Regions from separate parts of the Homo sapiens genome. Here region 2 is linked to region 1. The links come from fine-mapping of genetic effects on gene expression. A gene starts in region 1. The other region holds a variant in brackets. All regions are shown on one strand. Distances are between the middles of the regions.

What was found. PIP is the estimated chance that this variant, and not a neighbour inherited with it, causes the effect.
Region 2: its variant is the best candidate, but not a certain one, in a credible set for the expression of KLK4 in adrenal gland (GTEx, PIP 0.54).

The regions. Positions count from the first base shown.
Region 1 is chr19:50,909,078-50,913,466 of GRCh38, reverse strand. KLK4 (kallikrein related peptidase 4) reads left to right here and starts at 2,072. Exons shown (of 6, transcript NM_004917.5): 1 at 2,072-2,128; 2 at 2,718-2,789; 3 at 4,053-4,215. The coding sequence starts at 2,729.
Region 2 is chr19:50,888,467-50,892,855 of GRCh38, reverse strand. It overlaps the pseudogene KLKP1. Among named protein-coding and RNA genes, the nearest start is that of KLK2, 17 kb to the right of the region's middle. RefSeq lists enhancers at 1,556-1,665, 1,736-1,785. The variant G/A (reference allele first, on the strand shown) is at 1,826.

The sequences.
Region 1 (4,389 bases):
GAAGGCAAGGTGAGACAGAGACAGGAGGAAAGAGAGACACACAGGGGCAGACAGAGACAGACAGAGATCAGAGGGTCACAGACAGAGGTCAGAGGGAGAGCGAGAGAGAAGGGATCAGAGAGAGAAAGGGACAGGGACAGGGAAAAGAGAGACAGAGACAGAAACCTGCCAGGGCTTCCTGTTCTGTGGTCCCAGCCTATGTCCCGTCCTGCCCAGAGTTATCTGGGGGCGCACGGGCCCAGGACAGAGTTGGGGGAGGGTCTCACTTGGGATGCTTCCAGTCTGGCAGGTGAGAGAAACAGAGACAAGGGGGAGAGAGACAGAGATGGGACCAGAGAGGCAGAGGAAAAGAGAGCCAGAGAGAAAGAGAGACAGACACACGGGGTGGGCTGTGGGGGAAAGAAGTAAGGAAGGAGAAGGAAAGAGTGTTAGAGACCCAGGAGAGACAGAGAGACACAGAGACATTCCTGCCTCGTCGCGGTCACCTGCGGGCACTATCCCTCACCCGCGCCGGCTCCGCGGTCTACACCCACCCACTCCTTGGATGATCTCACCCGGCCTCGTGGCTGTAAACACCACCTCTCCCCTGATGAGTCCCCGCTGTTTCTCGGCAGTCCTGACCTCGGCCTGCCCCTCCGTGCACCCTCCGCGGTCTACGGCACCCTCTCACCCCCCACCCCCCTTCCCGCACCTATGCGTCTCCACAAGATCCGTAGAGCGCAAGCCAGCAGACCAAGCCTCCACGCCATCCTTGGCCCCTCTGCTCCTGGCCCCCCACTTTCCATCCATCGGGCAGTAACTTGGCTCCACATGCAGAGGGGACCCCGTGTCCATTCACCTCTCTTCTCCCTTGACCCCGTCACCTCCCACCTGGGCTGTTGCCACTGCCCCCCGCCCCGCCCCCACCATCACTCTCCAAGCTGGAAGTTTTTAAAAAGTAAATAAGATTATGTCACTCCATCCTCGTGCTTAAAATCCATTGCACTTAAGTAAAACCCAAGCTCCTTAATCCTGGTACGTAAACTCCTGCAGGCCCGCCCGGTTCCCGGTCTGCGCTCCTACCCGCCCTGCCCTCCTACCCGCCCTGCCCTCCTCTGGCTGGAGCCAAGTTCTCCCCTGCACCCCGCAACCGCCCCTGCTGCGGCGACCCTCCTCCTCCTCTTCCCTGGGATCTCAGCTTAAATGTTCCCCTTCTCTGAGTCTCCCCGACCACCACCTTATATGCTGGTCCCTGCAGTTTTCCTTTATGGTCTGTGCCCCCGGGTAGGACGCGATCCCCAGTGACGAGGACTTTGCTGGTTCCTCCTGTGGCCCCAGCACCTGCCGCAGAGCTCGGAGTGTGGTAGGCACTCAGCTGCTTTTCACTGAGCGAAGACTTTTTAGTTCTCCCGCTCACCGAGAGCCTACAATGTGCCTGGCACTGTGTGCCTTTCCCTGAATTACCTCTTTGAATCCACTTGGGAAATGGGGCATAATGGTCACTCCAGTTTTACAGTTGGAAAAACAGGCTCACAGGGGTGCAGTCACTTGCCCAAGGTTCCAAAAATAGTTCGTGATGTAGGCTGGATACGAACCTGGGGAAATTTGCTGGAGAAGCACAGAAAGAGAGGGATGAAGGAGGAGGGGAGAGAGAGAGAGAGATTTAATTTAAAAAGAGAAAGAACATGAGAGAGAACAGGAGAGAATGAGAGGAAATGAAAGAAAACACGAGAAAAATAATGAGAGAGAGAATGAGAGAAAGAAAGAAGAAGAGAAAGAGAAAATGAGAGATACAGGCAAGAGAGAGGTATCTCATGAGAGAGAATAAGAACATGAAAAGAGAAAGAATGAGAGAGAGAGAGAGAAAGAAAAAGGAGAGTGGAGTCTAGGATCTGGGCAGGGGTCTCCTCCCTGGGTCCCTAGACCCTGCTGCCAGCCCCTTCTGGGCCCCCAACCACTGCCTGGTCAGAGTTGAGGCAGCCTGAGAGAGTTGAGCTGGAAGTTTGCAGCACCTGACCCCTGGAACACATCCCCTGGGGGCAGGCCAGCCCAGGCTGAGGATGCTTATAAGCCCCAAGGAGGCCCCTGCGGGAGGCAGCAGGCTGGAGCTCAGCCCAGCAGTGGAATCCAGGAGCCCAGAGGTGGCCGGGTAAGAGGCCTGGTGGTCCCCCACTAAAAGCCTGCAGTGTTCATGATCCAACTCTCCCTACAGCTCCATGTCGCTGGATTCTCAGCCTCTGTGCCTTCTGTCTCCACATCTCTCTAGACAGATCTCTCACTGTCTCTAGTTAGGAGTCACTGTCTCTAGTTAGGGGTCTCTCTGTCTCTCTGAATCTATATCTCCATGTCTAACTCTCAGACTGTCTCTGAGGATATCTCTCAAGCACTCTGTCTCTCCGGCTCTGATTCTCTGTGTGTCTTCCCTCCATGCTTGTTTGTGGGTGGCTAGACACCATCTCTCCCCATTCACAGATGGCTAGATGCTTTCTCTAAACTTTCCTTTCTACCTAGTTCTCTCTCTCTCTCTCTTTTCCCATCTCTCTCTCTCTTTTTCTCTCTCAGTCTCTAAATCTGTCTCTCTAGGTTCTGGGTCCATGGATGGGAGAGGGGGTAGATGGTCTAGGCTCTTGCCTACCTAATAACGTCCCAGAGGGAAGAAAGGGAGGGACAAAGAGAGGGATGGAGAGACTTGGGCTGAAGATCCCCAGACACGGCTAAGTCTCAGTCCTCATCCCCAGGTGCTGACGTGATGGCCACAGCAGGAAATCCCTGGGGCTGGTTCCTGGGGTACCTCATCCTTGGTGTCGCAGGTATCTGAGTATGCGTGTGTGTGTCTGTCCGTGCTTGGGGGCACAGTGTTTGTTAATGTTCAGGTGTGACTCAGTGTCCTCTTGCTTGTGACTGCAAAGCTGCCTGTGAGACGGTACCGTGTTATCCGTCCCCCATGGCTGTGCCCCTGCAACTCCTTGTATCGTGGTAAATTTGTGTGTGGCAGTGTGCCTGGGTGTGTGGTTGTACCTGTGAGACTCTGACAGTTTGTGCCTCTGAATATCTGGTGGAGTGACAACAGTGTAATGATGATATGGGGACAGGGGAAGCCGAGGGTGCAGGAGATTGTGCTTCCTGGGGCGTGATCCATTGCTGGGAATCTGTGCCTGCTTCCTGGGTCTTCAGTCCTGAGATCCCCCTCTCCCATCCCCAAGGAACTCACCTCACAGGACTATAAAACGGTGTTTTGGTGTGCATGGGCTTGTGGCTTGGTGTGACTGTGGGCAAGGCTGGGAGAGGATAGGAGTGACTCGGCGCAGGACCGACTCTTTGAGCATCAGTCTGCGCAGACAAGTGACCCGATCCTTGCTCCCAGCAACAACTCCACCCCCTGAGCTTTAATTCACCCCGAAGGACCCGATCCTACTGCTATGAGCCTAGACTCCTCTGTTGAACCCCTCCTGACCGTGGCTTTGCACCGCGATGGCACCAGTCTCACCTCCAGAGCTCACCCCAGAGCCCTGACTCCGCCCCAGAAGCCCTGGTCCCACCTTCTGAGACTGCCTCTAGCCATAACCCAGCTCTTGAAGCCTTGATGGCGCCCCTGCGCTGTAACCCCAACCCTAGGAGCACTGATCCCGCCTTCTCAGCCCACCCCCATGCCCTGACTCTCCTCCCAGGAGCCCTGACTACCCTGAATCCCTGACCAGGCTCCTGCACCGTGATCACCGCCCCTGGGAGCCCTAGGCCTATATCCTGGACCAGCCCCTGAAGCTCCGATCATGACCCCTGCACCATAACCCCACCCCCAGGAGCCCTGGGTCCGCCCCCTGGGCCCGCCCCCAGCCCTGACTCGGCCCCCCAAGAGTCCTGACTGCTCCTGAAGCCCTGACCACGCCCCTGCTCGGTAACCCCTCCCCCAAGAGCCCTGGGCCCGCCTCCTGAGCCCGTTCCCAGCCCTGACTCCGCCCCGAGGAGCCCTGACTGCTCCTGAACCTCTGACCACGCCCCTGCTCGGTAAGCCCACCCCCAGGAACCCTGGGCCCGCCTCCTGGTCCCGATCCCATCCCTGACTCCGCCCTCAGGATCGCTCGTCTCTGGTAGCTGCAGCCAAATCATAAACGGCGAGGACTGCAGCCCGCACTCGCAGCCCTGGCAGGCGGCACTGGTCATGGAAAACGAATTGTTCTGCTCGGGCGTCCTGGTGCATCCGCAGTGGGTGCTGTCAGCCGCACACTGTTTCCAGAAGTGAGTGCAGAGGTAGGGGGAGTGGGCAGGGCCTGGGTCCGGGGGCGGGGCCTAATATCAGGCTCATCTTGGGGTGCTCAGGGGGAAACAGCGGTGAAGGCTCTGGGAGGAGGACGGAATGAGCCTGGATCCGGGGAGCCCCAGAGGGAAGGGCTGGGAGGCGGGAATCTTGCT
Region 2 (4,389 bases), 21 kb after region 1:
CTCAGAGGAGTCAAGGACTCTCTCCCCAACCCATTAAAATACAGGAGTCCAGAATCCCAACATTTTCCTTCTCCAAGACCTTGGACTCCCGGCTTTCAGCCTTCTCCAACTCCAGGTACAGAACCCATGGGTTCCTACTCCCAGCCACGTTTTTCAGGACCCTGACCCCTGCCTTCTTACCAGGTTTGGTAGTGGGCCTCAGAGAGCTCACAGCGGGGGACAGTGCATGAAGGACCACAGTTAAAATGTCCACATTCAAAGAAAATCACTTGCCAAGATTGGGAGCAGAGCATACACTCCTCAGTTCCCAGGACCTAGTCACCGTCCTAGGCCTCTGGGATGGGAGTAGAGGATCCATGAGGACAGGGTCCTTCTCACCTCCTATTCCCTGACTGTGCCCTTATCTACCTACATATTCTTCACTTATGCCTTCCCCTCAGTTTCTCCAGGAGCCTCTGATATGTTTTTAAAATACTGTTTTCTCTCTAGCTTTAAAAAACTTTTGCCTCTTTTCCCTGGAACTGTATCCTTTTTTGTTCCCACCACCCATCTCATGTGTTATAGGTTCCCAAAAGAGAGAGAAAGGGGAAAAGACCAGAGGGCAAGAAGTTCTCTGTGGTTGGGGATGAAGATAAGGTCACTGGATACAGTGAGTTCAGACAAGTGGTCACTTGGAGCCAGTCATTCAGGCTCATTCATCTGTCACAGATATTAAATGGATGTGACACTCAGTATGTATGACACACAAATTTGGTCCCAGAGTTTGGGTATCTCGGCCAAACTCAGGGTCATACAAGGGCACAGATGTGGCCATACTAGATTGTGGACCTACATATATGCACAACCAGACTTTCAAACTTAGGTATTGGTAGGTACAGCATTTACAGCTTACCTTCACGTAACATATAAATAGATCTCAGCTTCGAGGGTCACTATATGGACATTGATATTTGTATGTAAGTGTGGACAGTTAAGACATGGGTGTGGCTAGGCACAGTGGCTCACGCCTGTAATGCCAGTACTTTGGGAGGCCAACGTGGGTGGATGACCTCAGATTGGGAGTTCAAGACCAGCCTGACCAACATGGAGAAACCCCTTCTCTACTAAAAATACAAAATTAGCCAGGCATGGTGGCACATGCCTGTAATCCCAGCTACTCGGGAGGCTGACACAGGAGAATAGCTTGAACCAGGGAGGCAGAGGTTGACTTGAGCCAAGATCATGCCATTGCACTTCAGCCTGGGCAACAAGAGCAAAACTCTGTCTCAAAAAAAAAAGACATAGGTGTATGTGTGCATACACACGCGCACACACGCGCACACACACACACACACAGAGCTTTGGACATAGAAGCTTGGACCAAAATCTACACTCCACTGTAGGTCTGGATACCCAGTGTTCCAGTTGCACACACTTGCACACAAGGTCTGAACGTACAAGGTGGGGGCCTTAGTAAAGGTACACAGGAGAGAGACACTGATATGCAGTGTTGGGTTTGACTTTGAGGGGACATATCCTGAGTAGCCCCTCCAAAAGCAATTCACAGACATGGGTCTATAGTATGGTGGTTGTATCCAAAAGTATGACCACCTGGGATCAAACATATTATTTCTGAATCTTTGAGAAAATTATTTGACCTCAATGTCTTTCCATTTCCTCATTTGTTCATGGGGGTTTCCTTAAGACTTAAATAGAAAAATGTGTCTTTGTGTGTATGCCTGTGTGTGGGTGTGCATGATAATGCCTGGCACACAGTAACTGTAATGCATAGTAATAAATATCAGTTATTTTAATCAAGGACACATGACTTAGTTATGGTACATAC[G/A]TGTGCACGTTCAGATTTTGAAAACAAATATAGCCAAAATCAGACATATGTGCAGACCCAGATAAAGTTAGTCAAAGCTAATACTGTGATTCATCCATAAAACCACTTAGTGGTGATTCAGAGTTGCAGACACCAACCCCAAGGGCCAGACATTCAAATACAGCTTCATAGGTTAGATTCCTGGCTACTCCCAGACACAGAGTTGGGCATTTATGGGGAAAGACATATTCTGGAGACACAGGCAGCTGGGACAGGAAAGATTTATCTGTCTCTAGATCACCCCCCAAGTCAGACACTTGGTGTTGAAGGTTACTCATCAGTTTTCCCATATGGGGACATGGCTCACATGTGTGGGCAGGTAGTGGACAGCAGGGCCTTGCACACCCACCACATACACATGTGCATGCACATACACACACACACAACACACACACACGCACACAGAACTGCACTACGCACAAGTACCAAACAAGGACTTTTCACAGTCAGAAGACCCTGAGCCTCTACACTGGGAAACGTGGATATGTCCCCTCAAAGTCAAATCCACACATAAACAGACAGCAACAATAGGGCACATCCAGATCAGATCCCCATATTTTTCCTGCCATCTTTGGGAACTGGGCCTGGCACACTGGTGAGGCTAGGGTAACAGATGTGGCAGACAAGGGGTATAAGGAAGAAAGTATAAGTTTGTTTTGCAGGGAAGGTTAGAGAATTTAAATTATGATTCTGAGAGAAAATTCTCCATGGGCCTCTCATGTTTCTACATGGCTTCAAAGTGAAAAAAAAATTGCTTTGGACTATCAAGGATGTTTGGCTAGCAAGCCATCTTGCAAATGGTATTTTCAACAAAACAGCTTTGCTTACCGACCAGTGTAATAATGTGTCCCTTAAAGCAGATTTGTTTAGTGTTCAGTACAATAAATATAGTATGTTCCTCCAGAGCAGGTCTGTTTGTGGTCGGGATAACGAAGAATGTGTCTCCCTCTCGGACAAATATTAATAGTCCCTTCATACGATTCAGGATTCCTAAGCTCAGGTTTCTCAGCTGTGGGTCAAAGCATCGTGTCACAGGATCCTCCTAAACTTCTCTGATCATTCCTGTGGGACTTAGGGTCAAGGCGAACTGATGTGAACACAAAGCTCATGCTGTCTTCTGTGCTGTGAGTAATAAAGTCCTTTGCCTTTGATCCAGAATCCAGTGTGTTCTGCCAGTATCCATAAAACTGTGGCAGGCTAACTTATTTGTTTGCCAGTTGGCAAAATATCAGCCCCTTCAGAGTTTTTGACAAACAGTTGGGCACTAAGGCTGCACCTGTCCAGCTGGAGATGGAAGGGTGGGAGGTAGGAGGGGCCCCAGCTGGGCACAGCCACATGACAGAAGAGGGACCAAGGCTAGGTTGAACTTTTTTGAGGGCAGTGTAAGCCAAGCTGAAGTTGAACTTTCTTGGCCCTTGGAGTTAGGAGGGGCCCCAGCTGGGCACAGCAAAATAACAGAAGAGGGAACAAGGCTGAGTTGAACTTTTCTGGGGATAGTGTAAGCCAAGCTGAAGCTGAACCTTCTTGGCTCTAGCTGGATCCTTCCAGATACAAATTCATCCCACCTTTGGCATAATAAATTTCCTTTCGCCATTTGTCTCTCCTCCTCCCCAACATGCTCTTCCTCTTGGGTTCTCCCTCTTGGGAGAGTTCACTGCTTCCTCAGGCACCAGGATAGATGCCAAGTGCCCCACATCCTGCCAGACACTGGCCACATTCTATCTGTCCCCTGGATCTTCATTTTTAAAGCCTCAGGCCACATCCTCTAACTAGACCCTTTCCCCAGTCTCCTGACCATAATCAGAGTCTTCCCACATGTCTTCATTCCAACTTTTGGGATCCCTACCCTTTCAATTATGCCTTCACTTTAATGGCAGACAGCATGCATGCTGAGGATTTAATTAGCACTGTAATTCAGCCACTCACACAATAAGATTCTAGGTTTGATTTTCAGAAATCTCAGCTCTGTGGCTACAGGAGATAAAGGTTTCTTTCAACATCATAGACATAGCAACTTTAGATTATTTCTTCAGTCTGAGATCTGGAAATTTAAAGTCCTGTGCTCATTCTTTTCTTTTTCCACTTTTGCCAACACAACTAGAAGCAATCATCCAATTTCATTATGCTTGTTACTTTAAAAAATATTCTAAAGTGTCATATACATGATCACCCTGGTCATTTCTCCTTTATTTGATTCGGAATATCCAGTGGTGTTATTTTGCATATCTCTATTGCCACATTACACCACGGACTTTTATTTCTGTTTGTATTACTGAAAATAGAGTTGTGGTGCCTTTAATTTATTCGCATTACAGAACCAATTCCAAACACTAGAAATGCCAGAACTAATTCAGAAAGCTCATCCTTAAGACTTCCTTCCTCTAGAACAACTAGTAAAGTTTCTCTCAGACAGGATTTTTAGAGAAACAGAAAAAAAATAAGATACACACACACAAATATACACATGCAAAGAGACAGACAGAGATGGAGACGGAAAGACAAGGACAAGAAGATGGAATCTGAGC